Linked DNA regions of Homo sapiens. The protein of the gene in region 5 purifies or fractionates together with the protein of the main gene of each other region. This does not show direct contact. Each region holds a gene or a part of one and is shown on either strand. Other genes may lie near its edges.

Evidence for each region.
Region 1: the proteins of MKX (region 5) and ERCC3 purify together in Homo sapiens (affinity purification with mass spectrometry, with the first as the bait; one large-scale study listed by BioGRID). This does not show direct contact.
Region 2: the proteins of MKX (region 5) and SUDS3 purify together in Homo sapiens (affinity purification with mass spectrometry, with the first as the bait; one large-scale study listed by BioGRID). This does not show direct contact.
Region 3: the proteins of MKX (region 5) and SAP130 purify together in Homo sapiens (affinity purification with mass spectrometry, with the first as the bait; one large-scale study listed by BioGRID). This does not show direct contact.
Region 4: the proteins of MKX (region 5) and SIN3B purify together in Homo sapiens (affinity purification with mass spectrometry, with the first as the bait; one large-scale study listed by BioGRID). This does not show direct contact.
Region 6: the proteins of MKX (region 5) and SAP30L purify together in Homo sapiens (affinity purification with mass spectrometry, with the first as the bait; one large-scale study listed by BioGRID). This does not show direct contact.
Region 7: the proteins of MKX (region 5) and GTF2A1 purify together in Homo sapiens (affinity purification with western blotting, with the first as the bait; one study listed by BioGRID). This does not show direct contact.

The regions. Positions count from the first base shown.
Region 1 is NC_000002.12:127,276,718-127,281,191, forward strand, and holds part of ERCC3 (general transcription and DNA repair factor IIH helicase/translocase subunit XPB), read right to left. Parts: intron 3,915-4,474; coding exon 3,730-3,914; intron 2,659-3,729; coding exon 2,456-2,658; intron 1-2,455. UniProt on the Homo sapiens protein: ATP-dependent 3'-5' DNA helicase/translocase. Binds dsDNA rather than ssDNA, unzipping it in a translocase rather than classical helicase activity. Component of the general transcription and DNA repair factor IIH (TFIIH) core complex.
Region 2 is NC_000012.12:118,382,480-118,386,953, forward strand, and holds part of SUDS3 (sin3 histone deacetylase corepressor complex component SDS3), read left to right. Parts: exon of another isoform or gene 1-905; intron 906-1,532; coding exon 1,533-1,588; intron 1,589-3,634; coding exon 3,635-3,706; intron 3,707-4,474.
Region 3 is NC_000002.12:128,018,060-128,022,533, reverse strand, and holds part of SAP130 (histone deacetylase complex subunit SAP130), read left to right. Parts: intron 1-4,474. UniProt on the Homo sapiens protein: Acts as a transcriptional repressor. May function in the assembly and/or enzymatic activity of the mSin3A corepressor complex or in mediating interactions between the complex and other regulatory complexes.
Region 4 is NC_000019.10:16,863,410-16,867,883, forward strand, and holds part of SIN3B (paired amphipathic helix protein Sin3b), read left to right. Parts: exon of another isoform or gene 1-234; coding exon of another isoform or gene 235-270; coding exon 271-387; intron 388-2,000; coding exon 2,001-2,239; intron 2,240-2,963; coding exon 2,964-3,147; intron 3,148-4,474.
Region 5 is NC_000010.11:27,728,095-27,732,568, forward strand, and holds part of MKX (homeobox protein Mohawk), read right to left. Parts: intron 1-4,474. UniProt on the Homo sapiens protein: May act as a morphogenetic regulator of cell adhesion.
Region 6 is NC_000005.10:154,452,112-154,456,585, reverse strand, and holds part of SAP30L (histone deacetylase complex subunit SAP30L), read right to left. Parts: intron 4,131-4,474; coding exon of another isoform or gene 4,113-4,130; exon of another isoform or gene 4,087-4,112; intron 3,185-4,086; coding exon 3,086-3,184; intron 687-3,085; coding exon 558-686; 3' UTR 1-557.
Region 7 is NC_000014.9:81,196,402-81,200,875, forward strand, and holds part of GTF2A1 (transcription initiation factor IIA subunit 1), read right to left. Parts: intron 1,084-4,474; coding exon 1,008-1,083; intron 1-1,007. UniProt on the Homo sapiens protein: TFIIA is a component of the transcription machinery of RNA polymerase II and plays an important role in transcriptional activation. TFIIA in a complex with TBP mediates transcriptional activity.

The DNA.
Region 1 (4,474 bases), on a different chromosome or scaffold from region 5:
AGGACACGAGTTTCCAGATGGAAAGGATATACTGAGTGCCCATCACGATGAAAGAAAAACATTAAGAATATCACTTTCAAATTTCCAAAAAGAGAGAAGATCCTACCAGTTTTCAAGGGAAGGAAAACGCACAGCCACCACAGCAGACAACACACTGAGAGGAAGCAAAGGGCATCAGACTGCCAAACTGCTGCACTGGAAGCTCCAATGTTAGTTCTAGGACCTGGCCAAACTACTGATCAAGTATAAAGTCGAGTAAAGACATCTGTAAACATGTGAAGTCTCCAAAGCTTCTCCTCCTACATCCCTTCTCTCAGGAACCTACTGGAACATGTGCTCCATCAAAATGAGTAACCAAGAGGGTGGAGATTTCAGGGTGGGAAACACAACAAAGAGGCCCAGGGAAGTCATGGGGTAGTGTCCAAGGGAAACCCCATGGTAACAGCTGGTGGTGTCTCTAGTCCTAGACAGCAAGCAGGCCAGAACAGAGTAAGCGAATGGAGTGCTGGTGGGGATCCCACTGGGGAAACAGAAAAACAGAACTGAGAAATTACCTGACCCTACTGAGTTTATGGTTATGTGAAGACTTTGGAGGGGAATAATTATTCAATGCACAGAAAACCAAGCAAAAACAATGACAAGGCAATTATTAACTCCAAGGCAAAAAAACATTTACAAAAAAGAAAATGTAAGGCCGGGCATGGTGGCTCACACCTGTAATCCCAGCACTTTGGAAGGCCGAGGCAGGCAGATCACGAGGTCAAGAGATCGAGACCATCCTGGCCAATATGGTGAAACCCTATCTCTACCAAAAATACAAAAATTATCCAGGCTGTGGTGGCGGGTGCCTGTAGTCCCAGCTACTCAGGAGGCTGAGGCAGGAGAATCACTTGAACCCACAAGGCAGAGGTTGCAGTGAGCTGAGATAGCGCCACTGCACTCCAGCCTGGCAACAGAGCAAGACTCCGTCTCAAAAAAAAAAGGAAAATGTAATAGTACTCTACAGCTCTGCCTGAACATACTTACACAGTCAAAATAATGTAACTGAATATTAAAGTAACCCCCAACTTGTGCTATTCCCATATTGGGAGAATGGTAGGAGAGAAAACAGGAGTGGGGAGAGTGGTGTATGTAAGAAAGCTAAACCCTCAACTCCTACAGTAGGAAGTTAATAGGCAATTTCTATAACTGATCATCAAGAAATTACTACATAAGCTATTGCTTAGAAAGATGAAGGCTGGCCAGGTGTGGTGGCTCATGACTCTAATCCCAGCACTTTGGGAGGCCAAGGCAGGAGGAACTGCTTGAGCTCAGGAGTTTGAGACCAGCCTGGGCAACATAGCAAAACCCCATCTCTACAAAAAACAAAAATTAGCTGGGTGTGGTGGTGCGTGCCTGTAGACCCAGCTACTCGGGAGGCTGAGGTGGAAGGATTGATTGAGCCCAGGGGGTCAAGGCTGCCGTGAGCCGTGATTACACCACTGCACTACAGACTGGGTGACACAGTGACACCCTAACTCCAAAAAAAAAAAAAGAAAAAAGGAAGAAAGAAAGAAATATGAAGGTAAACAACAAAAAAGAGTCAAAAGCGGCTGTCTTCAAGGAATAGAATTGTGGGTGGGAAAATAGAAGCAGGGAATTGCTGTTTTTCACAATAATCTAAATGTTGACTTGGATTAAAAAGTCTTTCTAAATTAAATAAAGGTATAATTTTAGAAACTTAAGAAATTTAATCTTTCTATGAGTTTGTCTTCCCTTCTATAAAATGGGAACAACATTTTATATGGCTGAAGTGAGGATTAAGTAAAACCTATGTATAGTACCCATAGCACATAGCTTGACCTGTCTCCATAGAGGGCCTGGCCTTCTGCAACACTTACAGCACCTGAAGTCCTGTGTCACTGTAGGAGCAAGCGCAGACCTCTTCCTCCTTACTTGGCAGAGCTTTACAAAAGCCAGGTTTTAAGCACAAATATTTGGGTGGAGCCATGGGTTGATGAGGATACTGCGTGGGCATTTCTAAGCTCCTTCCAGATGCCAGTCCGTACTTGGGATGCCAGCCCAGCCCATCTTGCCTTCCCAGCCCCTAGGCCATCCAGTCTGGCCTCCTCTCCACCCACAGAGCTCACACAGCCCAAAGCTCCAAATGCCAACTCCCACCCACCTTTGGAGCCCAGATCTTCCATGGGGCCCCACCCAGCTCAGTCCAAGTCTCTGCTCCCTGTTCTTTGGGCTCAAGGTGACTAGCCCCCCTTTTCTCTATGCTCTAACCTCTGACTCCAACCACCTACTTCAGGTCTTCCCTGGTTTCTGAGACCAGGGCCACAGAACAAGATCTTTGGAGCCCAAGAAGTTCCTGAGAGAAAAACAAAAAAACAAAACAACAGCCACCTTCTGCACTCTCAATGGGGAAGAGAAACTGGCCTGGAGGAAGCTCCAAGTTTTCAATTCTTACTTGTTCAGTCGAATGGCATATTCCTTTAGGGCAAACACATTGTCAGCAAAGACAATAATCTTGTCATTCCTCCTTTCATGAAACTTGATCAGAAACTGGCAAGCTCTAAATTTGTTGGGGTTCATGGTGTACAGCAAGATTCGTTTCTTGGTTTTGATTGCCACATATTCCCGGTAAAATTCAGGAGACATAGGGCACCAGACCTGTAATACAGTAAGAACCAGGGGTCATTTTACAAGTTTAAACACCACACAATTTAAAACTTTTGAAGACCTTTCTCTAGCAGAATTAGCTTTAAAACAAAACCAGTCAGGTGCAGTGGCTCATGCCTGTAATGCCAGCAGTTTGGGAGGCTGAGGCAGGCAGATCACTTGAGGCCAGGAGTTCAAGACCAGCCTGGCCAACACAGTGAAACCCAGTCTCTACTAAAAATACAAAAATTAGCTGGGTGTGGTAGTGCATGTCTGTAATTCCAGCTACGCAGGAGGCTAAGGCAGGAGAATCACTTGCCCAGGAGGCGGAGGTTGCAGTGAGCCAAGATCACGCCACTGCACTCCAGCCTGGGTGACAGAGTGAGACCCTGTTTTAAAAAAAAAAAAATGCTATGTGAATTAGAAATCAGTACAACTGAAAATAAATGCATGCACAAAACTAAACCCAACCTAATACCTCCTATTGAACTGGACGTTTTCACATGTTAACCACTTAAAAGATTTTTAAATGCAATCACATCCAGGGAGTTATTTTCACACCAGCTGCAAGTGTGCGAAACCAGATTCTCAATTGGTAGTGTCAGCAATTCTTCCATTTAAGCCACACTTCCACACACGAGTCAGCACTGCTACTGAGTACCGCCACCTCTTCACACACTTCCCAGCAGGGCTGGGAGCATATCAGTTAGGCGCTTGGGGCTATCAGAGCAAAGCCCTTTGCTGCCAGGCTCCCAGGCAGCACTGTGGTATCAGGGGCCTTCATTCATCCCTGTGCCCTGAATGCTAATCCTCACCCACAGAAATCCATGACTGGTAAACCCCATGGCTAGGAAAAAGAATCATCACAAATTCAGGGGTATGTGAGATATGTGACAAGACAGAAGATATGCAGCAAGTGGGTCTAGTACCACCCAACCACAGGGTGACTGAGGATCCTGTATGAAGTGGTAGCAGGTGAGCCTAAGTCCTGACCTGTGTCTGCCCATGAGGAATCGATCTGATCACTCCCCTGCCCATAGGAGGAGGCCCTTTCCCAGACGCCCCCAGCCCAGGCCCAGCTACCTCAGCACACTGGACTTTGGCGATGTAGCCATTATTCTGCAGCTCCATCCAGTTGGCTTCGTAGAGCTTAGGCCCAATCAGAAAATTTAAATCCACAATTTTGTCATCTTCGCGGACGAGGGTCGCAGTCAAACCCAGCTTACAGTGGGCCTGCACGATGGTGAGCACCCTTCGGAACATCTTGGCTGAGGAAACAATGGGAGCATTCACACTGTCACTTTTCTTTCTTATTTTTTATTTATTTATTTTAAAATATTTTTTGTAGAGATGGGGTCTCATTATATTGCCCAGGCTGGTCTTGAACTCCTGGCCTCAAGCAATCCCCCTGCCTTCGCCTCCCAAAGTGCTGGGATTACAGACGTGACCCACTGCACCCAGCCTACACTGTCACTTTTTCAAATGCTCATAGCTGTGCAACTTAACACTGGCTTATGACACCACCTGAACTAACCCTTGGGTTTCAGGACCACAGAAGCTGGCTCTAGACAAGAATGACTAGGCAAATGCTTCACCATCACTTTTAGACCTGTCCAAAAGAAAATGAAAAGGAGAACAAGAGGGTGAAATGAGCTTAAGGAATCTCCAAGTTAATGAATCCCAGCATTCCCCTCACAACAGTTATCAGTAGAAGTACAGATGGCAATTTGAAATACAACCTGCAATACTTACTATTAATACCATTAAGCTCTAAATTACGCAAAGAATTTTCCCCTAACACTTGTACCCAGGTTACTGAAAAGAAAGT
Region 2 (4,474 bases), on a different chromosome or scaffold from region 5:
CTCAGCCTTCCAAGTAGCTGGGACAACAGGCACGTGCCACCACGCCCAGCTGATTTTTAAAATTTTTAGTAGAAACTAGGTCTCACTGTGTTGCCCAGGCTGGTCTTGAATGCCTGAGCTCAAGCATTCCTCCTGTTTCGGCCTCCTGGAGTGCTAGGATTACAAGAATAAGCCAATGTGCCCAGCCTTTTTTTTTTTTTTTTTAAGAGACAGGGTCTTGCTCTGTCGCCCAGGCTGGAGTGCAGTGGCATGATCTCGGCTCACTGCAACCTCCAGCCCCTGGGTTCAAGCTATTCTTCTGCCTCAGCCTCACGAGTAGCTGGGATTACAGGCGCCCACCACCACGTCTGGCTAATTTTTTTTTTTTAAGTAGAGACAGGGTTTCACCATGTTGGCCAGGTTGGTCTCGAACTCCTGACCTCAAGTGATCCACCCGCCTCGGCCTCCTAAAGTGCTGGGATTACAGGCGTGAGCCACCTTGCCTGGCCTCCCTTAGTATTTGATGATACAGAAAAAATTTCGGTTAAAATGGAATGCCTTGTGTAATTCAAGGGGAAATCTAAAGTGCATCAGAATTTGCCCTGAAAGAGTGAGATGTGTGTGAGTCTCAAATTCTGCCTACTCTCCTCCCCTTACAGAGGGTTGGGTTGTATTTGCAGCCCTTATTTGAGCGCTAAAAAGGTTATCACGCCCATGTGCTCACTTCAGCAGCACATATACCAAAAGGTTATTGTGCTTGTTATATGTTGGACAGTGTTCTTTCAGATCACAAATCTTGTTTTTATCACTGTTAAATTGAGGGTGTTTTTCAGGTAGAAGCAAAAATACTTGCTGAAATGTGATTTATATGTGGAACCCACCTTCAAACCAACTTGCTGAAGTTATGACTGCCTATAATCCATTAGGTGTGAGAGGAAAAAACTAACATGCCAAATGCTTTTGCTTCGTGTGTGCTGTGTATTCCCATCCAGCTGGGGCTGCCAGTAAATGCTGCCTTTTAACTTTTCTTTCTGAATTACTATTATTTCTCTGATCCTAAAAGAGTAGTGCTTTAAAAAATGACATGAAGGTTTATTGACTTAGTTCTTACACTGCTAAGCATATCTGCATAGAAAAACATGCTGAAGGCATAATCTTACTCTCCTGTAACTTACAATCTAATTGTAGAGTTGATGTAAGAGTTGTGTTTAATGCCATTTCTACATTGTGTGTGTGCTTGCCTGTTTATAATTGTCATTTATTAAAATCTGCTATCGTTGCAAGTTTTAGACGGATTCTGTAAAGATGGGATAACATGGGAGAATCTACAAAATTAGAATAAGATTGAGGAACACAGGGTTCTTTCTTGTTCCTTTCTGATCCCTGTGGCTGCTGGTGCATTTTAAGCCAGCAAGCAGACTTTACTTTCCTCTCTTCCCTGAAGGACATTAATGACCTTCCCATAACAGCCCAGCTAATTTCTGTGAGTAGGTTATTTTGGAATTGAGTATTGAATGTTTTTATCTGTTAGTGTGACTTTTTTTTTTTTATAGGATGTATCAGGACAAACTGGCTTCTCTCAAGAGGCAGTTGCAACAACTGCAAGAAGGTTGGTGTGTGATTGAATCCTGCATTTCTAAATATGCTTCTTAATATTACAAACCCTTGAAATCTGTGTATTTCACTTCTCTGTGGGAGTTATTTAAAACACGGTCTGGCTGATCTTAGCTATCCAGTACATTTTGCTATCTTTTGCTGTCAGTAAAGTGGTGATTTTCCAGCTCCTTGATTTTGAAACATTTATTTCCAGTATGTGTGAGATTCTTTCTTCAAATGAAATCTCACTTGGGACTTTCAATGGAGCACGAATTGAACGCCACTGTGCCTAAAGCTAGAGATTTTTAGGAGAGACATTGTTATCAAAGAATAAAGTTTTTACTGTTTTTTCTAAACCAAATGTTAATGACCTTGTGGATTATTCACACTGTGTTTTCTCCTTTTTGCTTGTTACATTAAAAGTAGATTGTATTTTGTCAAATGCTGCTAGCTGCTAAAGGCAGTGCAGCATCAGAGTTAAGAGTGCAGGCTGTGAGGCCAGGCGCGGTGGCTCACACCTGTAATCCCAGCACTTTGCGAGGCCGAGGCGGGTGGATCACGAGGTCAGGAGATCGAGACAATCTTGGCTAACATGGTGAAACCCCGTCTCTACTGAAAAATGCAAAAAATTAGCTGGGCGTTGTAGTGGGCACCTGTAGTCCCAGCTACTCTGGAGGCTGAGGCAGGAGAATAGCGTGAACCTGGAGGCGGAACTTGCAGTGAGCCAAGATCGTGCCACTGCACTCCAGCATGGGCGACAAAGCGAGACTCAGTCTCAAAAAAAAAAAAAAGAGTGCAGGCTCTGGAGTTTTGTGAGGGATTGGAATCCCAGTTTCCCTGCTTCTAGTAATGTGACCTTGGACATGCCAGTTTCTCTTGTTTAATCTGTTTTCTGATCTGCAAAATGAAGCAAGTAAGAGTAGATGTGATTATGCATGAGGAGCGTCTAGCACAGCAGTGTGCACACTGCAAGGTCCTGGGGACAGTTAGCTGTGGCAGTGAGCTCTTCGGTTTCATATTGTGGAGTCCCCTTGTCAGTGAAACTGTTTTTGCTTTTCTTTTTTTTTTTTTCGAGGCTGAGTTCCGCTTTTGTCACCCAGGTGGAGGGCAGTGGCGCGATCTCAGCTCACTGCAACCTTCACCTCCTGGGTTCAAGCGATTCTCCTGCGTCAGCCTCCCGAGTAGCTGGGATTACAGACGCCTGCCACCAGGCCCGGCTAATTTTTGTATTTTTAATAGAAACGGGGTTTCACCACATTGGCCAGGCTGGTCTTGAACTCCTGAACTCAGGTGATCCGCCCACCTCAGCCTCTCAAAGTGCTGGGATCACAGGCATGAGCCACCATGCCCAGCCTGATACTGCTGTTTCTACTATGTGCTTTTATTGCTGGTGAGTGATCCACGCCCTTGGACTAGCCCATGGTCAGGCATTATAATCAGGAAACACTTCCCCCCACAAGATGGGCCCCTCATAATTAACTGTTTTGTGGGAAGAGCAATGAAATGAATAGCGATTTGGTTAGAATCTATACCTGAATTGTTTAATGCTGTCACTAGCCACATGTGGCTGTTTAAATTTAATTAATAATTTAGTTCTTCGGTTCCACTAGCTACATTTCAAGTGCTAAAATAGCCACAAATGGTTAGTGCCTGCCATGTTGGACATTGCAAATATAAAACACACCATTGCAGAAGGTTCTACTGGAGAGCGTTGACCTAGACCTTACTGAAGGAGAATGAACCTTTTCCAGTAAAGGAAGGCCCGTTGATTCAGACTGTTGCAGCAACTGATCAGAATAGTGTGGAGATATTGGCAATTTTCCACTCCCCCTCACTCACTACAGACCCTTGATCCACTGGGTTGGGTAGACTTTGAATGGGCCCCTAGTGGTTTCTGCTGTGTGCCTTGGTTAAGAACCAGAGTTAACTTTGCTGAGGTGTGTCTTCCTTTGGTGTTACTGAAACAGTCAGTGTTGATGCTAGATAATAATTTTAGGAAGCAAAATGTAGAGCAGATTTATATTCACAATAATTTTATTTTTCAAATGTTCAAAATCAGGTACATTACAGGAATATCAGAAGAGAATGAAAAAACTAGATCAGCAGTACAAAGAGAGGATACGGAATGCAGGTAAGGCTCCTTTAAATGGCAATGAATCATCTTTCAATGTTTGACCATTTGCCGATCGTCGGTGTAATGCAGCCCTAAGAGCTATTCTCCAAAACATATCCCAGATACTCTGTCAGGGAGAGTTTTCAGAAAAGAGACTTCCAAGCTGCAGTTATGGAAAGTGGTTTCATCTTCTGCTTCTGTTGCTAAGGAATGGCCCAGAAGTGGAGGGTGTCTGAGGAGGCTCCTTGGAGTTAGGTTGTTCTCCCTGGTACCCCAAGAGTAGTCTTGCACCCTCTTGCTCATTTCTGCATGGCTGGCCTGATGTACAGTCAGAAGTGCGGATGAGGAAAAGGATTGTAGGTTGTTTTTGTCCCATTTTAAGTTTTTTTTTTTGGTATTTTGTGCTAGGATTGGGGAGGGTCTTCTTGTTATTTTCCCCAAGTATTGTTTTTATAAGAATTTAGAGAAAACGCACACTTGATTAGTTGTATACAGTAAATGTATTCATTCAACAAAAATGAATTGAGCACCTGCTACATCTAAGCACTGCGAGCAATATAAAGTCATGTAACACATTGCTTTGACTTTAGGACACTTGGTGTTTCATTGACAAAAGATACCACATGTATAACGTGTAAAGTTAAGGAACACCGAGTTAAAGAGCCATGCAGAAAGTAAGATGTGACAACTGTTTAAAGTGTGTAAACATGGATTCCTGAGGTTACAGGAAATCGCGTGTATGTGTTGAATTTTTAACGCTCATCATCAGCCAGCAGTTTGGGTGCC
Region 3 (4,474 bases), on a different chromosome or scaffold from region 5:
GCAATATCTTATAAAATTAAATATACACTTACCACACCACTGAGCAATCTCATTCCATAGGTATTTATCAAAGGTAAATGAAAATATATGTTTATACAAGGACTTATATTCACATGTTCGTAGAAACTGTATTCATAATAGCCAAAACAGGGTTCTCACCAAATGTCTATCAGATGGTGACAGGATAAGCAAATTGTTGTGTGTCCATCCGTGCAGTGGAATGCTACTTGGCAATAAAAAGGACCAGACTACCAGTATACACAACATTATGGATAACCCTCAGTAACATTACACTAAGGAGAGAATCCAGATACATAGGACTACAGATGGTATGATTGTGTTATGTGAAATTCCAGAAAAGACTATGCCATAGTGACAGAAAGCAGATCAGTGGTTTCTGGAGAATAGAGGTTGTGGGGAGGGAATTGACTGCAAAGGGGTGTGAATGAACTCACTGGAGTAACAGGAAATGATCTGTATCATGATTGTGTTATACCGCTGTATACTTTTGCGAACACTTATCTAATGTTACACAAAGAATTAGTGAATTTTATATGTAAATTGTACCTCAGTAAAGCTAATTGATTAAAATGGACAAAAGATAAACATGCACTTCACTAAAGAAGATATATATGAATGGGCTGGGATCACATAAAAAGATGTTCAACATTACTAGTCATCATGGAAATGCTAATTAAAACTACAGTGAGACACACACTACAACCCACTAGAATGGCTGTATATCAAGCAATGAGTAAGGAAGAGGAGCAGCTTGTATACTGCTAATGGGAACAGGCAATGCTACAATCACTTTGGAAATGACTTCGGCAAAGTTAAACATATACTTACCATTTGACCCAACCATTCTGCTCCTTGGTGTTGCTGAGGATATTTGTAAAAAAATTATTGAACTTTTCTTGTAAACCAGTGGTGGTATTCTATGTAATCTATTCCCCAATAAAGAGGTTTTATAGATCAAAATTTTAAAAATTCTGAATGACCTGGGAGAAAAGTCAATATATAGTGAAAAAGAAAACGTATATCAGTCTTTTCTTTCCTCTCTGTTTTTTTGTTTTTTTTTTTTTTTGAGATGGAGTCTTGTTCTGTCGCCCAGGCTGTAGTGCAGTGGCGCGATCTCGACTCACTGCAACCTCCACCTCCCGGGTTCAAGCAATTCTGCTGCCTCGGCCTCCCAAGTAGCTGGGACTATAGGCGCCCGCCACCATGCCCAGCTAATTTTTGTATTTTTAGTAGAGACAGGGTTTCACCATATTGTCCAGGCTGGTCTCAAACTCCTGACTTTGTGATCCGCCCGCCTTGGCCTCCCAAAGTGCTGGGATTACAGGCTTGAGCCACCACGCCCGGCCACATCACTCTTTTCATCCAGCACTTGTACTTTTAGGAATTTTTTCCTGAAGAGATCATTGGACAAGATTGTTGATAAAAGCAAAAATTTGGAAATAACCTAAAAGCCCATCAATGATACAGTGATTTTAAAAGCTATAGTACATCTATACAATAGAATCCCATTTCACTTTTTTTTTGAGACAGAGTCTTGCTTCGTTGCCCAGGCTGGAGTGCACAGTCTTGGCTCGCTGCAACCTCTGCCTCCTGGGTTCAAGTGATTCTTCCGCCTCAGCCTCCCGAGTAGGTGGGATTACAGGCAACCGCCATCATGCCCAGCTAATTTTTGTATTTTTGTGGAGACGGGGTTTCACCATGTTGGATGATGGTCTTGAACTCCTGACCTCAGGTGATCCACCTGCCTCAGCCTCCCAAAGTGCTGGGATTATAGACATGAGCCACTGTGCCCGGCCCCATTTCACCTTTAAAAAATGATGCAGTATTCTCTACCCAGTAGTTCTAATCCTAGGTATATATTGAGTAGAAGTGGTACATATGTTCACCAAAAGACACGTACAAGAACATTACTAGCACTATTCAAAATAGGAACAAACTGAAAACTAAAGTGCCTCTTAAGAGTAAAATGGATAATTTGTACGTTACTCGTGTGTCGTACTATATACAGCATTGAGAATGAAAGATCTACAGCTGTGTACACTAATGTGAATGAATCTCATACCTGTAAGTGAAAGAGGCAAAGCACAATAGGGTGTATTTGTTATAAGTCTGTTTACGTAAAGTTAAAAAACAGACAATACTAATCTATAGTGTTACAAGGTAGAAGATTGATTTCCTTCGGAGGATAGTGGCTAGAATAGGGCCAAACTAAGGGTCTCTGGGGGACCAATAATGTTTTCTATCTTGAGCTGGGTGCTATTTACTCAGGTTTATTCAGTTTGTGAAAGTCCATTGAGCTGCACAGCTAACATTTGTGCACTTATCTTTATGAAAATCATACTTCAAGAAAAAAAAGTCAAATGAATAAAAACCCAAAATTTAAAAGAAGCGAGAACTGTCACCAAAACTTTAAGTGTTGGTGCCTTTGTGGGGTAAGTTTGGGGGCAACATTACTTTGTTTATGGTACTCCAAATAATTTAAATTCTCTACATAAGTAAATATTATCTTTATGCTCAGAAAAAAAATTATTTTGGAAAAATTATAGACAAATATGAGTTAATATTTTCACAAGCTCTTCCTTTATTACATCAGTATTGTTCTCTGATTTTTTTCCACTTAATTTTTTTTTTTTGACACAGAGTTTTGCTCTTGTCCCCCAGGCTGGAGTGCAGTGGCAGGATCTCCCAACCTCCACCTCCCGGGCTCAAGCAATTCTCTGGCCTCAGCCTCCTGAGTATCTGGGATTACAGGTGTGCACCATCACACCTGGCTATTTTTTTGTATTTTTAGTAGAGACAGGGTTTCACCATGTTGGACAGGCTGATCTCGAACTCCTGACCTCAAGTGATCTCCCCACCTTGGCCTCCCAAAGTGCTGGGATTACAGGCGTGAACCACCACGCCCGGCCTCCACTGAATTTTTAAATACTTAATTTTTAAATAGGCCAGGTGCAGTGGCTCACACCTGTAATCTCAGCACTTTGGGAGGCCAGAGGTGGGAGGAACACTCGATCCCAGGTATTCAAGACCAGACCAGGCAACATAGTGGAACTCTTTCTTCATAAAAAAATAAAAGAATTAGCCAGGTGTGGTGGCATGTGCCTGTAGTCTTAGCTGCTTGGGCAGCGGAGGCAGAGGCTCACTTGAGTCCAAGAGTTTGAAGCTGCAGTGAGCTGATATCCTGTGACTTCGTTACAGCCTGGGAGACAGAGTGAGACCTTGTCTCAAAAAAAAAATTTTTTTTAATTAAAAAAAATTTTTAAATAGATTGTCTTCTGGTAGACCAAAACACCAAAAGAAAAAGAGCATACATTGGAAAATATCTCTCCTATCTCTGTCCCTCAGTTTTGAAAAATTATATGTTCTTAAAGTTAGGAACCGTACTTAAAATATCTTTTTTTTTTCTTTTTTTTGAGATGGAGCCTCACTCTTGTTACCCAGGTAGGAGTGCAGTGGCGCAATCTCAGCTCACTGCAGCCTCCCATCTCCTGGGTTCAAGTGATTCTCCTGCCTCATCTTCCCTAGTAGCTGAGATTATAGGTGTGTACCACCACGCCCGGCTAATTTTTTTGTATTTTTAGTAGAGACGGGGTTTCACCACGTTGGTCAGGCTGGCCTGGAACTCCTGACTTCAAATGATCCACCTGCCTTGGTTTCCCAAAGTGCTAGGATTACAGGCTGTGCTCAGCCCCCAACCACCTTTTTTTTTTTTTTTTGAGACAAAGTCTCACTGTGTCATCCAAGCTGGAGTGCAGTGGCACAATCATGGCTTGGCTCACTGCAGCCTTGACCTCCCAGGGTTAAGTGATCCTCCTCCCTCTGCCTCCAATATAGCTGGGATTACGGGTGCATGCCACCATGCCCATTTAATTTTAAAATTTTTTGCAGAGATGGAGTCTTACTGTGTTGCCAAGGCTGGTCTTGAACTCCTGGGTTCAAGGGATCTGTTTGCCTTGGCCTCTCAAAATGCTAGGATTGCAGGTGCAAGCCACTGCACCAGCCATCCTTTTTTTTTTTTTTTTTTTTTTTGGAGACAATCTTCCTCTCTCGCCCAGGCTAGAGTGCAGTGACGGAATCTTGGCTCACTGCAACCTCTGCCTTTTGGGCTCAGGTGATCCTCCCACCTTAGCCTCCCAAGTAGCTGGGATTACAAAAAAACGTGGTTTTTGGTTTTTGGTTTGTTTTTTTTTTTTTTTTTTGTATTTTTAGTAGAGATAGGGTTTTGCCATGTTGGCCAGCATAAAATATCTTTTTAATGTCAGGCTTTTATAACTTTCTAAGAGGATGTTTTAAATGAAATTGTCTTACATCCTGTATTGTACTTTTAACTATTTCAGCTCATTTTAGATGATTTTCAGGTAGTTTGTTCATAAGGCTACAATATCCAGAATAAATTCTATATTCCACAGTTGTGGCTCTTTTGTCTGATGTCCATCAGGAGAATCCAGTGCCC
Region 4 (4,474 bases), on a different chromosome or scaffold from region 5:
ATTCCATTGGACATCAGGGACTTGAGTATCTGTGGATTTGGGTCTTCAGGGGTGGTTCTGGAACCAATCTCCCAGGATACCAAGGGAGTGTCCACTTGACCAAAGTCATGTTTTTCCTTAAAAACTTTATGCACCTTCCCATTTGTATAAGGCAGTTGGTATTATGTATCAGGATGGTATTATGTATCTTGGTACTTTCTACACTGGCTAACAGTAAATCTTGGCTCCTGGGGCATGCAGCGTCATTCACGGCATTTCCTCTTGGTGCAGGTACTGAACGACACCTGGGTCTCCTTCCCTTCCTGGTCTGAGGACTCCACGTTCGTCAGCTCCAAGAAGACACCGTACGAGGAGCAGCTTCACCGCTGTGAGGACGAGCGCTTCGAGGTGTGTGTGCTGCTGTGGCCGGGTCCCCCGGCATGTGCCTGTTCCCCTTCTCCATGGGACATGCATCCTGATCCTCCTCCACTGCCCCAGTCTCGTTTGGAGGAGCAGGAATTGCAGCACATTCCAACAGCTCCTGGAAGCTTCCTGCCGGGTCTTGCTGGCCTTTGGGCTGGCTACCAGATGGCACTTTTCTTTCTGTTTAAAAATTTTGTTTGGGCTGGGCGTAGTGGCAGACACCTGTAATCCCAACACTTTGGGAGGCCAAGACAGGTGGATCATTTAAGCTCAGGAGTTTGAGACCAGCCTGGGCAACATGGCGAAACCCCATCTCTACCAAAAATACAAAAATTAGCCGGGCGTGGTGGCGGGCGCCTGTAATCCCAGCTACTCGAGAGGCAGAAGCAGTAGAATTGCTTGAGCCAGAGAGGCCGAGGCTGCAGTGAGCCGAGATCACACCACTGCACTCCACCCTGGACAACAGAATGAGACCCTGTCTCCTAAAAAGTTTCTTTAATGTAAAAATTAAATTTATTTTTATTTTATTTATTTATTTATTTTGCTTGCTCTGTTTCCCAGGCTGGAAGTGCAGTGGCGTAATCATGGATCGCTGCAGCCTTGACCTCCCAGGCTCAAATGATCCTCCCACCTCAGCCTCCTGAGTAACTGGAACCACAAGTCCATACTACCATGCCCAAGTTGTTTTTTTTACTTTTTTTGTAGACATGAAGTCTCACTGTGTTCCCGAGGCTGGTCTCACACTCCTGGCCTCAAGCGATCCTCCCACCTTGGCCTTCCAAAGTGCTGAGATTAAAGGAATGAGCCACCACACCTGGCTAATTTTTTTTTCCTTTTTTTAGAGACAGGGTCTGTATTGCCCAGGCTACATTAATTTTTGTAATTAAAAGTTTTATTGGCTGGGCACGATGGCTCACGCCTGTAATCCCTGCACTTTGGGAGGCTGAGGTGGGAGGACTGCTTGAGGCCAGGAGTTCAAGACCAACCTGGGCAACAAAGCAAGAGCCCATCTATACAAAAAAAAAATTTTTTTTTTTTTTTGAGACAGAGTTTCACTCTGTCGCCCAGGCTGGAGTCCAGTGGCATGATCTTGGCTCACTGCAACCTCCACCTCCTGGGTTCAAGCGATTCTCCTGCCTTAGCCTCCTGAATAGCTGGGATTACAGGCACACCACCATTCCTGGCTAATTTTTTTATTTTTAGTAGAGACGGGGTTTCACTATGTTGGTCGGGCTGGTCTCGAACTCGTGACCTTGTGATCCGCCCATCTCAGCCTCCCAAAGTGCCAGGATTACAGGCGTGAGCCACCGTGCCCGGCCATAAATTTTTTTAATTAGCCAGGCATGGTGGTGCACACCTATATTCCTAGCTACGTGGGAGGCTAAGGTGGGAGGATTGTTTGAGCCCAGGAGGTTGAGGCTGCAGTGAGCTTTGATTGTGCCACAGCACTCAAGTCTGGGTGACAGAGCAAGACCCTATCTCTTAAATACACACACCCCCCCCCCAAAAAAATCCTCTGGTCTCTGAGGTCCCAGGCTCCTCTCTGAGGCCTCTTGAGTTCCCCAGTGGCTGACCCCGTCCTGCCTTCCTTTCCATAGTTAGACGTTGTCCTGGAGACGAACCTGGCCACAATCCGTGTGTTGGAAAGTGTGCAGAAGAAGCTGTCTCGGATGGCGCCGGAAGACCAGGAGAAGTTCCGGCTGGACGACTCCCTGGGAGGCACGTCGGAGGTGATCCAGCGCCGTGCCATTTATCGCATCTATGGCGACAAGGCCCCGGAGATCATCGAGAGCCTCAAGAAGAACCCTGTCACCGCTGTCCCCGTTGTCCTGAAAAGGTGCCCTGTGGCGTCCCGACTTCCCTTCCCCTTCCCCTTCCCCCTTCCCTCCCCTCCCCTCCCCTCCCCTCCCCACTGCAGGGAGCCCTTGGAGAGCTCATTAGTGCTGTTTGTCAACAGGTGTCATCTCCAGGGGTGGTCTCTGAGGCCTAAGGGTGCCTTCCTGTATTTCCCAGTCTCCCACTCCTGAGAGGAGAGCACTGTGACCTTCTAGGACTTTCCACCTTGCACATAATACATCTAGACATCTAAATAACTGCTTTAAGAGTCAGATGCGACCACTACACTGTGGCTTGCATTTTATTTAATGCTGCATTTCGGATGCCGTCCGGCGCTAGTTAACAGGCATTTATCAAGTGGTCACTTTCAGGCAGGTGCAGTGCTTGGCCCTGGGATTATGCAGCTGAGTGAGGCAGACCCAGTCCCTCTCTTGGGACTCACAGCTGAGCAGGGGACCTGAGTGGTTGAGCCAACAGCCATGCGGAGAGTGCTGGGTGCCAGGGAGGAGGTGGAGGAACCGGGAAGCCGGCCACATTGGCTCTGTAAGGCCATCACGCCCTCCCTCTGACGTGCACAGAGCCCACTGCACAGACTAGGCTGGGAGCTGGCTGGGCCTGGGTCCTGGACCCCCAGTCAAGTCCCAGAGGAAGACAGGCCAGCCCTGGGATGCTTCAGGGAGGATGCCCTGGCTTGTCCCTGGTGCTGACCTCTCTTCCCCCCGCAGACTGAAGGCCAAGGAAGAGGAGTGGCGGGAGGCCCAGCAGGGCTTCAACAAGATCTGGCGGGAGCAGTATGAGAAGGCGTACCTCAAGTCCCTTGACCACCAGGCTGTGAACTTCAAGCAGAACGACACCAAGGCCCTGCGCTCCAAGAGCTTGCTCAACGAGATCGAGAGCGTCTACGACGAGGTAAAGCCTTCCCTAGCCCTGCCGGCCGGTGGGGGTGGGGTCCTGGCTCTCCCGACCGCCGGGTCTGTGCCTCTGTTTCCCTGGTGGTTAGGCAGGGTAGTGGCATTGCCCTTTCAGGGCTGTGTTGAGGCGAGGGTTCATGTCTCTGTGATGCCCAGCCTGTGGCCTGCCCTAGGAGAACCAGCAACTCTGCCATTGTCTATCTGTTTGTTTGTTTGGAGACAGAGTCTCGCTGTGTTACACAGGCTGGAGTGCAGTGGTGTGATCTCAGCTCACTGTAACCTCAGCCTCCTGGGTTCAAGTGATTCTTCTGCCTCAGCCTCCTGAGTGGCTGGGACTACAGGCGCACACCACCACACCCAGCTAATTTTTATATTTTTAGTAGAGATGGGTTTTCACCATGTTGGCCAGGCTGGTCTTGAACTCCTGACCTCGTGATCCACCCACCTCAGCCTCCCAAAGTGCTGGGATTACATGCGTAAGCCACCGCTCCTGGCCGACTCTGCCATTGTCTAGCGAAGTCTCCGTCCCTCCCGTGGGGCAGTGATGGACTTTGGCTTAGGTAGTGGGTGGCAGCAGCCTTCATTTCTTTCTTGCCGACTGTGCCAGGCACCGGTGTTAGCAACACAGAAAGAGTAATGCATCATCTGACCTCACTCCTGAACCTGACTCTGCTGCGGCATTATTCTGATTTTACCAGTGGGGAAACTGAGGCACAAGAGGTTGCATTTGCCTGGGCTGGTCGCAGGGGGCCAGGGCTCTGAGTCATTGGGTTCGAGGCTTTCGGCTGCATGTCCTCACTGCAGGCTCACAAGGCCTGAGTCATAGAACCAAGGCCAGCGGGGCCCTCAGGTTGCCAGGAGCTGGGCCTGTTAGTAGCTGTGTGTAGGGAGTGCCTGCTTGCAGGATCCTGAGGTGGGAAGCTTGGCAGGGTGCCGGGCGTGGTGATAGCCAGCTGTCGGGAAGGTCCTTGGACACTCTGAGGAGGTGGCTTAGGAGGGCACACTACTCCCCAGGCAGTGCCCAGATCATGGCACGGGCTGCGTTATCAGCCTGGTGCCCACCTGGGCAGGGGGTGTTGCCTCACCTGATTTGGTTTCTTGCTCCTGTCACTGCACAGTGAGCGGTCGCTCCTTCTTTTACAACACAGAAACGGAATCCACAGGAGCCGGGCTGCTGGCCCAAGGCCTCTCCCAGAGCCTGTGGGACTGTGGGGACCCCCTTCCCTCCCACCTCCCTTCCCGTGGGCCACCCTCGCCCCAGGCCCACCCACAACCACTCTGGCTTCCTCACTCTAGTCCTCGGCGATCCTCAAGCCCAAGACCCC
Region 5 (4,474 bases):
TACATCAACAGTCATTTGCATGCCAGGAAAAGAATGTCTGGAATAATCCAAAAAAGGCAAAGCTTAATTCTTTCACTAAAACCAAGAAAGTGACAGCACAGAAAGGGAAATAAAATAAGAAAATAAGTATCCGAGGTAGACTTACTGGTCAACAAAAGCCCAAAAGAGAAACCGTGCGTGTGCACCGAGGCACTCACACAGGGCCCTTAACACAGATGGCTCTTGATGCCGCCGTAAGACTTTTTTAAGCTACCCCCCAAAACGAAAGCTGAAATGAAGGAAACAGATATTGTCAGGGGGAATATTCACTGCTCAAAAAGATCTGCCAAGGCATCTTTTTAAACCTTTCTTCTGGTTCGTTTAAATATGGTTTCATGGATAGAGTGACCAGCACCAAACACAGGGCTCCAGTGAGTCTAAGCCAGAGCTTTCATGGAGTGGCTCTTAATTGTCATTTTTGCATGTGGAATGAATGCACATAGGAGCAGCACCTCATATACCAATGGACTGTGTCCCAGAAGCTTGTTACATTGGTTGTTTAGAACAGAATACCTTTCTCCAAAGAAACTATGTCATAAATTAAGCTTGAAGCCCACGCAGATCCAATGGTTTATTGAACTCATGAGCATATCTAGATTTTACTACTGATACCAGCTTAAATTTTAAGGCACACAGTGTGCAGGAAGAGAGAGAAAAAGAAAAAAGAACATTTTCTCCCCTGAGGGTCATTATGAGCCAAGAAAAATGGTTTGGAGATGGCAGTTGGACTTGTTATCCTCCCAAACTTTCTACATCCTTGTTCCTCTTTCCCCAGTAACCAAAATGGCTTGTTCTCTCGTTTTGTTCCATGTCTCCAACCGCAGCAGGACATCCAAATGGATACTACCTCCCAGAGTGTCCCATGCACCAATAAACGACTTCTTTTTTCTCTCAATCAAAATCTTCATTTCTTCCCAGGGATATTCACCTCCATCAAGCAGATGGGAAGTTAGCCCGATTAATTCATACTAACATAGAAAACACTCCTATCTGCCTAGATGCTTTGCTTTATACCAGATGTGTCTAATTAAGAGGGATTTTAGAGAGTGTAACAAAATGAAGTTTAAACATTCAAACTCTTGGGAGCAGGATAAATTTATAAAGTATATGCTGACAGAGCCATGGGGCTCATAGAGCAACCATTCTAATGCACTAGGCCTTTTTTTTTTTTTTTTTTTGAGACAGAGTCTCATTCTATTGCCCAGACTGGAGTGCAGTGGCATGATCTCGTGATCTCGGCTCAGTGCAACCTCCACCACCTCCCAGGTTCAAGTGATCCCCCTGCCTCTCTCCCCGTAGTAGCTGGGATCACAGGCGCGCTCCACCATGCCTAGTTAATTTTTTTTTATTTTTGGTAGAGATGGGGTTTCACTGTATTGACTAGACTGGTCTCGAACTCCTGACCTCTGATGATCCACTGGCCTCGGCTTCCCAAAGTGCTGGGATTACAGGCATGAGCCACCGCTCCTGGCCTGCACTAGGCCTTTATAAACTGATCATCTGTGATCTGTGAAAGGGAAAAATGCAACAAGGGCTTGTCCTCAAGTCGAGCAAAACAAGAGGGGAACTCCACAGGTTTTATTTCAAGACTTGCCTGATTTACTCTTTCTTAGAATCCTCTTTCCTCCTTCAGTAGAGAAAGAAATTCCATAGGCTTGGTTCTGAGGGTAAAGTCAAAGTCTAATTCAAGTTAGAAAAGGTTCCAGTGAGAACCCACTCTGTAAGGCGGCAAAAACGGTTCCATCTGGAGAATCTGAGCCCTGGTTCAACAGGAATGGAGGTGGATATTACACCGGGGGTCCTTATCCTGGCACCACAGAGAGCAGAGAGAGCAGACCACCTGGGGGCTAGAGGCTTGGACATCAGTTTGTAAGGAAATTCACTCAGTCAAACATCTGAAAATTACCATTCGCTAAGCTCACATGATAAAAACAAATTATAATTTTAATTTAGATGACTTAATTCAACAGATGACACTGAGTGACTAAATTTCCTTTGAGTATTAATTACATTTAGATGCAATGACCTTAATAACTCTGATCAATTGCAATGGTAAAATTACTGCTGTCAAAAATGTTTCAACCCATTTGTAGTGAGAGCCTGCTATGACCCTGGCATGAAGCCAAAGACTGTGGATTACAGAGAAATAATGTCTATGTAAAATCAATAAAAATATGTTTGCATTTGCTTTGATGTTTCTAGTAATATCTTCAATTAGGATTACTACTTTATAATCTACAAGATTCTGCCCCCTAGAATTTAATAAAAATAAGTGAAGTAAAATTCAGTGATACATTATCCTTTCTCACACCAACTTTCAACTGGCTTTTTTTTTTTTTTTTGAGACACAATTTCACTCTGTCACCCAGGCTGGAGTGCAGTGGTACAATCTCGGCTCACTGCAACCTCTGCCTCCTGGGTTCAAGCGATTCTCGTACCTCAGCCTCCCGAGTAGCTGGGATTAGAGGCGCCTCCCACCACGCTCAGCTAATTTTTGTATTATTAGTGGAGACGGTGTTTCACCATATTGGCCAGGCTGGTCTCGAACTCCTAATTTCAGGTGATCTGCCTGCCTCGGCCTCCCAAAGTGCAGGGATTACAGGTGTGAGTCACCATGCCCGGCCTCAATTGGCTATTTGATTCCATATATTTAATAAAACTCATCACAAGACAGCTACTCTAACAAAAATGGATGAATAATTGGATAAAGTTCCTTGGCAGCCGGGCGCGGTGGCTCACGCCTGTAATCCCAGCACTTTGGGAGGCTGAGCCTGGCAGATCACTAGGTCAGGAGATCGAGACCATCCTGGCTAACACGGTGAAACCCCGTCTCTACTAAAAATACAAAAAATTAGCCCAATGTGGTGGCACGCACCTGTAATCCCAACTACTCAGGAGGCTGAGGCAGGAGAATTGCTTGAACTTGGGAGGTGGAGGTTGCAGTGAACCGAGATCGTGCCACTGCACTCCAGCCTGAGCGACAGAGCAAGACTCCATCTCAAAAAAAAAAAAAAAAAGGAAAAAAGAAAAGTTCCTCAGCAATAAATTGTAACAAAAACAAATAAATTGTAAAGTGTTCTTTTAAAAAATTTGAAAGTTCAAAATCTTTGTACTACTGTAGCACTGGGGGAGGGGGTGTTAATACAGACTTAGAAAATTTCTATTTAGGTGAGGAAAGAAAGATATAACCAGATGGAATTGAAAGAATTCAGAAGAAGGTTATATGCCAGAGAAAACCATAGCAGTTGCTCAGAAAGTATTTCTTGAAATCCCCTGTTTTACTATTTATACATGCCTGGTAACCCAGCTACGATTGCAGCAACACTGTCACTCAATTCCCACCAAAGACAGCCATTGATTGTTTTGACCTGAAACCTAGCAGATCAGTCTTAGGCCACCAGCCTTTCTTAATTCTCCAACCATAAAAACAAATCATTTAGTCTGCCCTTTTTAAGTTGGTGCACACGCATGTAAAACCAGAAGTTTACATGTCTAGGTTGCTTTCTCATTGCTTGCATAACTAAAAAAAAAAAATAGGCTTTTATTTAAAAATAGAATTTGGCAAATGAATAGTCCATACTATGGACCAAGTGCCTTTGGAATGCTTTAATAAAAACAAGCCACCGAGATATTTAACTTTGAAAAGAATCAACTCTACAGGCATGCTATTCACTCTGGCTTTATATTTTGTCACTTTTGAAAAGAACATGCATTTTCAGAAGACTCACCACACTGGGAAAATTGCGTAGGCATCTAATCTATGTTTTTACCAGGCAATGTTAAAAATTTTATAAGAAAAATATTTTAAAATAAAAGATTACCAATTACTCTGTCTCATTAAAATTAATGTATTTGTCATTTTTTTTTATTTGCCTATGCACATTTGTACTGTCATAACTGTATTATAGTGTTTCCACAATTTTGAATTGTTTTTCAATATTACATTATAAATATTTCTCAAGTATTTTCATAGTATCAGTATTATAAAGAAAGATCTTGACTTTTATGCAGTCTTAATCTGATTTGAGAGTAGGATAACGTTTACATTTTTTTTAAAATTGATACTTTTTATATGTTCCAGAAAAATGTATAAAACACGAGCATTAATTACTTCTTCAAAGTTTGAAAAGAAATGGATGTATTAAGTCATGTGTTTTGGGAATTGGATTGACTAAAAATCTTAATTTTTCCCTAGTTATTGGCCATTTAAAACTTTTCTTGTTTATGAACTTTTAATTTGTGTGGAGAATGCCAATTTATTTAAATACACATTTACATATAGTATATTGCCAAACAACTGTGCATAGTACTTCATCATAATTTTTTAAAACCTTTTTTGTTTAATAACTGTTTATTGATTGTTGTTTCTTTCCTTTGTAATTTCCAATTTTAATTTGCGTCGATTTTTGCTTGTTTAATTTATTATTGTTTTAAA
Region 6 (4,474 bases), on a different chromosome or scaffold from region 5:
AATTAGCCAATACCTACTGATTGAGTGCCTACTGTGTACAAGGCACAGGGTGAGTGAGGGGGACCAGTGTCAAACTGATCTGCTGATAAATGACAAAGCTTGCAACAAAGCGGGCGGGATATCTATGTCGCCAGCGGGCAGCATGCAAGTCCAGATGTGGGTCTGCTCATGCACTTCCATGGCCAATTGCACCTTGCTGCTATTCCAAGCTACAGCTCACACGTGGCAGCCTGGTGGATAAGGTGATTACCAAAATATTTCTTATCCCACATTTCCAGTAGAATTGATTTAATGCTTTGTTGAATGCTGAAATACATAGTTTTTAATTCTTTTAATGATCCTGATTTTTTTAGTCCAGAGTTATCGTAAAAGAAAGTCTTTCTATACACATGCTGAATCATGAGAATATAATCCTCCTGACCAAAAAGATTTACAGTATTCATCATTCAAACTTTTTTATTTACAATAATATTTAACAGTCTTTATGGGCTTAAATGTAGTAGATATCACCTGTGCATCAAGCATTACACTTCATTCCTTTAAGATGTGCTTCATCCTCACTCAAGCTGCTTGCCACCCTCCGATTTCTGGTCCAGTCTACTCTTGTTACTCTTCACCATGTAGATGAAGTAGGCAAGGGTCTCTTTTTCATTCACAGGTATGTTCCTGAAGTGTCGACTCACAGTCTATGTGGGGGGAAAATACCAAAGTTCCTTAAACCATGCACAAATCACACCGCAAATTCTACATTGTACAAAGAAGCGAATGGAGTTGTTTGCATGCTGTGGCGGGAATGACAAATGCTGAAGAACTTCCTGCCATGTGCGGAACTCAGAGTGCCCTTTGCCCTTCCTCCCCAGGGATGTAGGTGGTTTAATTTCCAGGATCCAAAAGTGGCTTTTTAACCTACAACTCTTCCAAGGTGCAGTTCTATTTCAGTGGCAGCCAACCACCTGTCATGGCATGATTTCACAGTCATACTCATGGAGGAGAGACTGGGACTGCTCTGGTTGGCCAGCTGCTACCAAACCTCTCAGGCCTTGAAAGTGGGAAGAAATGTGTCTTTAAAAAATTGTGGGGCAGGCGTGGTGGCTCACACCTATAATCCCAATGCTTTGGGAGGTTAAGGTGGGAGGATTAGTTGAGGCCAGGAGTTCGAGACCAGCCTAGGCAACACAGTGGAGAACTCATCTCTACCAAAAAATTAGCCAGGTGTCGTAGCATGCACCTGTGGTCCCAGCTACTCAGGAGGCTGAGGTGGGAGGATCACTTGAGCCCAGGAGGTTGAAGCTGCAGTGAGCTGTGACTGCACCCCAGCCTAGGAGACAGAGCAAGACCTTGTCTCAAAAACAAATAAAAATTGGGTTAGGCTGGGGATGGTGGCTCACACCTGTAATCCTAGCACTTTGGGAGGCCAAGGCAGGCAGATCACCTGAAGTCAGGAGTCCGAGACCAGCCTGGCCAACATGGTGAAACCCAGCCTCTACTAAAAATACAAAGATTAGCCGGGTGTGGTGACAGGCACCTGTAATCCCAGCCACTCGGGAAACATGGAGAAGAATCACTTGAACCCGGGAGGTGGAGGCTGTGGTGAGCTGAGATCATAGCAATGCACTCCAGCCTGGGAGATAGAGCAAGACTCTGTCTTTAAAAAAAAAAAAAAATTGTGTTAAATGAACAGCCAATTGAACAAATTGAACAGAGGCATCTGAACCCCAAAATTCTTCTAAGTAGTGCATAACTGCCTCCTGAAAGACATATCAGGTTTGAAGGAAAATGCATCATTTACTAATGCTCCTAATACTTCATTCCATAAGTAATGAGAATGCAGGTCTCCTCTTGCCCCACCTCATTCTTTCCCTTCCACCAGGGAGAACACTGGCAAATGGGTGATGTTATTTTAAAGTAGGAGAGGCTTCTGACCTCCTGTGTGTCATCTGGACACTGGTGAAGGAGTTGTTTAAGAAAAAGTGACGGTCGAGCAAGAAACCTCTAAAGGAAAAACCAAAAATGAAACAGGCTGGAAGCCTTTCAGGAAATCTCAATGGATCAAGGTGGCTGAAACAGATAAAAAAAGACAGAGAACTAGACATAAAGAGTGGTTATCTCTGGATGATAGAATTATATTTTTCTTTTCTCCATTTTCCAACTTTTCTGTAATAGGCAGAAAAATATATTAAGAAAAGAGGGATTAGAAAATACCTGCAGAAATGACAAAGACAGAATTATCAAGCCAGGCAGTTCATGTATTTTAAAAATGGCCAGTGGAGCATTTCCCCGTAATCCAAACTGTGTTAATAACTCAGGGCAGGAGAAAACTTTCTTGGGTGCCATTCATTAAAATACTGTCATTACCAACACCAGAGTAGGAGAAATCAAGGAAAAAAAAATAGCTCCTGTAGAACATCAAGGTTTTGAAATGATTAATCTGACACACAAAATGATCATATCTAAAAAGCATTTTGCTAAGCCAGGCACAGTGGCTCACGCCTGTAATCTCAGCACTTTGGGAGGCTGAGGTGGAAGGATGGCTTGAGCCAAAGAGAATCACTTGAGCAACATAGTGAGGCTGCATCTCTATAAAAATAAAATTAGCTGTGCATAGGGGTGTGCACCTGTGGTCCTAGCTACTCTGGAGGCTGAGGTGGGAAGGATCACTTGAAGCTGGGAGGTTGGGGCTGCAGTCAGCCCAGACTGAGCCACTGCACTCTAGCCTGGGTGATAAAGCAAAATCTTGTCTCCAAAAAAACAAAAAGAGGAATCTTCCAAAAAAGATTCAAACAAATGAACACTCAGGACTTAGAATCTGGAGTCATGAGATCCCAGGCTCAATTCTGCTATCAACTTGCTGTGTGATTTTAAGCAAATCCTTTCCTCTTTCTGTGCCATGGTTTCTTTTCTGGAACTGAGGCCTTTGCAGGTCTAAAGCTGTGGGGTTCTAAATTGCCAAAGAGGAATACAGAGTTGCTTCCAGAACTCTGGAGGAAATTACAATTAGCAGACACACAAGGTAAGGGAGAATCAGGGTAACCATCAGAAGCAGCACAATGCTGGCTCTCTTTAGAGGGCAATTTTGTCTACCTACTTCTGCTAACTGGGCCTTATTGAAGCCTGGTCTGGTCTGCAACTTGTAGTGTCGTTTATAACGTCGTAGGGTGTTCACCTGCAGCTGGAACAGATCAACCTAGGGAGAAGAGGAGAAAAATGTTATCCATCACCTGACCACCCAGGACTCACCAAGAGCCCACTATGTGCCTAGCACTACACTAAGGTAGGGGTGAGGATGGGGAGGGCTTCAAAAGAGGTCTTAGAAATGGTCTATTGAGGACTAGTAACTGGCTAGGAGGGCAAAAATAACAGTAGAAAAACAGTTCTGGCTGGGGTGGGCTGATCTCACAAAACTGGTGGAAAAGGTAAAGCTTAAGCTAAGGAGGAGCAGGGTCTGATAAAGCACTGAGAAACGGTAGGGAATAGGGGAAAAGATCACAGCACAGAGAGCTGGGAGAGGCACAGATGGGCAAGGGGGTCACAGGCAACTGTGATGAATTTAAAAGGTGAGAATGGATGGTAGCACATCCAGAAAAACAGAAGGAGCTATCACAGAGGGTGGAGGGCGATGGCGCAGGATGGGTCTGGTGGTGGTTGTTGGGAAGACTGATGGGGGGATACGGAGGGAGATGCTATAGCAACAATCAGAATGAGATGAAGAGGCTGAGCTTTGGAGGGGCAGTGATGCTAGAAGGGACACCAAAGATGGAGAGCAAAGGCAAAAACCAGAGACATCCTGGAGGATGATAGGCCAGAACGAGGCAGCGACCGGATAGAGGAGCACAAAGGAGGGCTGTTATCCTCAAATAGCTCTTTGCTAGGCCCAGCCTTCTGGTATTAGAATCCTTAACCTCCCTCCAGAGAAAGTTCAAAAGTTACTGTAGTGAATGTGCAATCCAGCAGGTTAGGGCTGGGGTCTTTGCAGATGACTGGATAACAGAGGGGAAGGGACCCCCCCTTTTTGTTTCTAACAAAGGAAGAGAGGAAAGCTGCATAGTCATGAAAAATTGAAGGCCCATAAAGTTGGGCTGCCTTTACCTGCCTCTAAAAGAGCTGTTCTTGCTTCAGGCAGGTGGAGAGCACTTAAAAACAAAATGAATGATCAATATGAGGGGCCAAAGTCCTTCATTCTTTTTCAAAACATTCCTCAAAACCTTTTTTTTTTTTTTTTTGGTGAAAACCACTTAGAAATCGAATACGTCCATTTCTTTGTAAAATAACAATAACGTTAAAGGCAAAAGCAAGATTCTGTAAACCAACATTGGAAAAGGGGACACAGGGAGGGGCAGAGGGAAAGGGCCAGATTTTCAACGGTTTCCTCCACATCTGCAGACAAAGGCCCGCCTACTCTTTCTATTCCTACACAGTCATTTTCACTCTGAGTGCTAACAGGCGGTTGCCTTATGAAATATTCATGTGTCAAATA
Region 7 (4,474 bases), on a different chromosome or scaffold from region 5:
TCCCCTTCTCTGACTTCTCGCCATGTTCAAATACATTCCTTAAAATGTTTTATTTTTCATATTTACATCCTCATTCAGCTATTTCCAACAAGGTTTTAACAACAGATTATGAGACTTGACTAAAGCTTACATTATCTTTGCTAACCTTAGGAGTGAAGAAAGAGCAGTAAGATCAGACACTTCGGGAGCTGTTCATTTTTAAAGCTTTAAAGGAACAAAAGCTTAATAGCTCATTTAATATCTTGAACCAAACAAAGCACCAAAGAACTTTGCTTCAAAATTGGTAAAAGCAATAAAAGTTCACAGAACCAGTTATCATCATTGTCATACAATTCACACAGAATCAAATTCCCCCAATATGTTCCTTTAGACAACCCAGAATCTTGAATTGATTAAAAAGCAAATTACATCTTATTAAAATATGTAGCAAGACAAGCCCCTAATTTCACAAATTTACAAATTAACAAAAATAACATACACAGAATAGAAAATAAATAATAACTATATAATCAAGATTATAGGGAACACTTAAAATCCATGTAAATAAATTTTTCAAGCACCAATATGCCAAAACACATGAGCTAGACATTGGTCTTTTGTCAATGAAGAGATACTATGTATAATAATAGCATACAATAAATTTGCTCTTAATATGCTCTAGGAATTACTTTGATATCACAAGTTCAAAGAAGTTTAATACTCACTTGGCATGTTAAATGTGTTCAGTAAAAAACTAAGTAAGCATTTTTATATAATCATACTTCAATAATAGGGTTATCATGCACAGATCAAAGGTTCAAGTACAATTTTCATCTTCTTTACTGTATCCTCAACAACGATTACAGTTATATGTGTTACAGCCCTCAAATAAAGTTATTTTAATAACCTAAACCAAATGGTAAAAGAAATATTAGTATTTTCTGTCTTTCAAAGAAGACAAAACCTAAGGGCTAGATAGTACAATTTTCTGAATTACATTTTAAAATGGTTCCATCATTCCTAATTACCTGAATTTGTTAATATCTGCTGAACAGGAGTCACACCTGCAGGGAGTGCTAAGGTAGCAGCTGTAGCAGCAGCACTCTGAAAAAAACAAAGAAAAAATATCAAAACCACATACATGTATAATACTGTTTCTCTCTAGCATATTTTAATAGTGTATGAAACTTTTTGTTTAGAATATACCAAAATTTAAAAAATCTAGTAAGGCTAAATCCCATTTTATAAAATGGTACAAGACTGACCAACCTAGCCTCCAACCTACTAAATTATTTTAAGCAGTTAAATACAACAATATAATTGGGTTTTTTCCCCTAGAGAAGGTGCTCTAAGTAAATCTCACAGGTACTGCAGTTTTTTTTTCCTTCTTGTCCCATCAATCTTCTTTAAGGTACCAAGCCTTCCTATACTCAATCTAACCTACACATTTTTAGACAATACCCACATTAACAATGCTGTACAATATATGAAATGGCTATTTCATTATTGCTTCCTTTCCCACTGTTTCCTTATCCCCATTTCCTTGAGATAAAAGTATAATTATCTACTTTTTAGAATTCTTAACTTTTAAAATTTCTACTAAAATCAACAGATATCTATAAAGAACACTGTATCAGAAGACTTCACTGGGAGTACAGCTGACAATTCTTCTAAGATGTCATATTAGCAAAGAAAAAAGGGACATACTGGCATTATATTCTAGGTGAAACATGCATTAATAACAGATTAATACAAAAAATCTGTAAATCTTAAGAAAAGTCACACCAGGCAGACTGGCTCACGCCTGTAATCCCAGCACTTTAGGAGGCCCACGTGGGCAGATCGCTTGAGCTCAGGAGTTTGAGACCAGCCTGGGCAATATGGTGAAATCCCATTTCTACAAAAAATACAAAAATTAGCTGAGCAGGGTGGTGCACACCTGTAGTCCCAGCTACTTGGGAGGGTGAGGTGGGAGGATGGCTTGAACCTGAAGGTGGAGGTTGCAGTGAGCCGAGATTGTGCCACTGCACTCCAGCCTGGGCAATAGTCACAAACTTTAGTTTCAACATTTTGAAATCAAGTTAGTATGTGACACTTAAGTTATAAAGATATAGACGGGATTATATTATGAATTTCTTTAAATCCAGGACAAATTCTTGACTTCCTGGAGAGTTCTGGAGAGTTTTCTCCTCCTGTCCTCCCGCAAAGAATTATGCCATTCTCTGGTTTTTTATTCTGCACTTTAAGTATTTTCCTGTATCCCGCTATAGCTACACATTTTGGTAGTTTTTTCCCTCTCTTTTCAATCTTCTTTAGCTACCAACCATTCATACATTCAATCTAACCTATACAGTTTTAGAACTACCCATATCTGAAAAAGCTTAAAAAAATAAATATAACTGCTTTGGAAATGCTAGTGTCAGAGAAGTCAACAAACTTAGAAAATTATTAAACTGAGTTAATAGTTCAACTACTGTCTAGTCTGGGCTCTAGGTACATAGCTTTCCAAGAAAATACACTTGTTGCCACTTGACAAACCTAAGTAATTTCTACATCTTGGGCCTGAAATTCCCACTGTGTCTCCAGAATTTAACTATAGCCCACCCGGGTGATTCGTATTTAAGTTGGATACTCAATTACCCAATTTAAAATAAAACTTGGCTATATAAGCAAATTAAAGGTTATCTAAGTTTAAGGAAAATATTAACCACCACATACTATTAAGAAATATTTAAAAAGAAAAAAACAAAAATATTTAGAAATATTAAGTGCCTATAATTCATATTTTGAAAGACAGCAATTCTCCCTCTACCAGCAAACTGACATAGTAGTTTCCATATAGAATACACGACCCAATAACTACCTGCACACCCTCCACAAATTCAAGCTGCATAACATATATTTGCTGAGTCATGTACCATACACTAACCACCTTATACTTAATAACTATTAAAATTTCTTCTTGTATTCCACAAAACAGCCCAAACACAAATAATGCATTAGACCAATCATTTCATAAAAAAGAACCGAAAACAATGGTTTTCTAGAAGTTCCCTGAAATAGCCTTCTACTATATTATCTCACGTTTTTATGATTAGTTCATTTCTAATGCAAACAGAGCCATTAGAAAGAACAAATATATTTTTGCTATTTCTAAATCAGAATAATGCAAACCCACAAAAACCTAAAACACTTTTATTGGTACAGAGCCTATACTGATTATGTTCAGAAATACATGAAGGAAACACTGACTAAAAACAACAAAGTAAAATGTAAAATATACAGAAATGTTAAATCAATTTTCCTGAGTAACTGACCTATGATTTGTTTAAATACATATGCTCTTTAGAATAAAGGAGACTTAACCAGTAAGTAAGAGATGGACCACTAATTTTTATCCCAGAAATAACTTACTAATTCAAAATTCTCTTCCACAACATTTAAAATTCTTTTAGAGGGGCCTACCACAAGAGACTCTGCCAAAATTTGTTTTAAAATAATGTGAGTTATTCCCTAGGATATAGTCTTAATAACATCAACTACAATAAGCAACATATAGTGAGACTTTTTTTTTTTTAAGGGTGGAGGTTAAAAAAAATTGGGGCCTTAGACTTAAAATGGAGTTTTTTCCAATAAAAAATCTTGTGAGAAATAACAGGCATGAAATTTTTTATTTTCATGTAAACGAAAAGATTCTAGAAACTGCAACTACAAGTACAAACAGAGATCCTCGATATTTGTGAATTTAAAAACTGCAATTTCTACTATCATGTAGAAACTTTCAATTCTGCCACAGTATGAATTTGTGAGGCTGGTAATGTGTAGGAGGAAGTCATCTGTCTAGTGGGTAAGCCCTTCTTATCTGGCTTATAAACCACAAATGAACTTTGTGATTCAGTATCACTCACAAAGTAGAACTCATCTTTTCATACACTGCTTTTTGGTTTAAAAAAAAACTTGAGGCTGGGCGTGGTGGCTCACACCTGTAATCCTAACACTTCAGGAGGCCGAGGTGGGCAGATCGCTTGAGGTGAGGAGTTGGGCGACCAGCCTGGCCAACATGGTGAAACCCTGTCTCTACTAAAAGTACAAAAAAATTAGCCAGGTGTGGTGACATACACCTGTACTCCCAGCTACTCAGGAGGCTGAGGTGGGAGGATCACTTGAACCTAGGAGGCGGAGGTTGCAGTTAGCCAAGATCACACCACTGCACTCCAGCCTGGGTGACAGGGTAAGACTCCATCTTCAAAAAAAAAAAAAAACTTGAACGGAGGGAAAAAAAAATCTCATTTCTAGTACTAACTAGTTACATAGGTTAAAAGATCTTTTTACAAATATTGATTCTTTCACCTTTAAATAAAAGTTTTGGCTGAAGAATGAAATGTAAGAGCTGAGTCACCACTCAATGAAATCAACAGTCTGTATATTTTAAACAGAATAAAGAAAAACCATTTATAAGGAAGTATTGAACTACTCTAATCTGACTATATTTTAA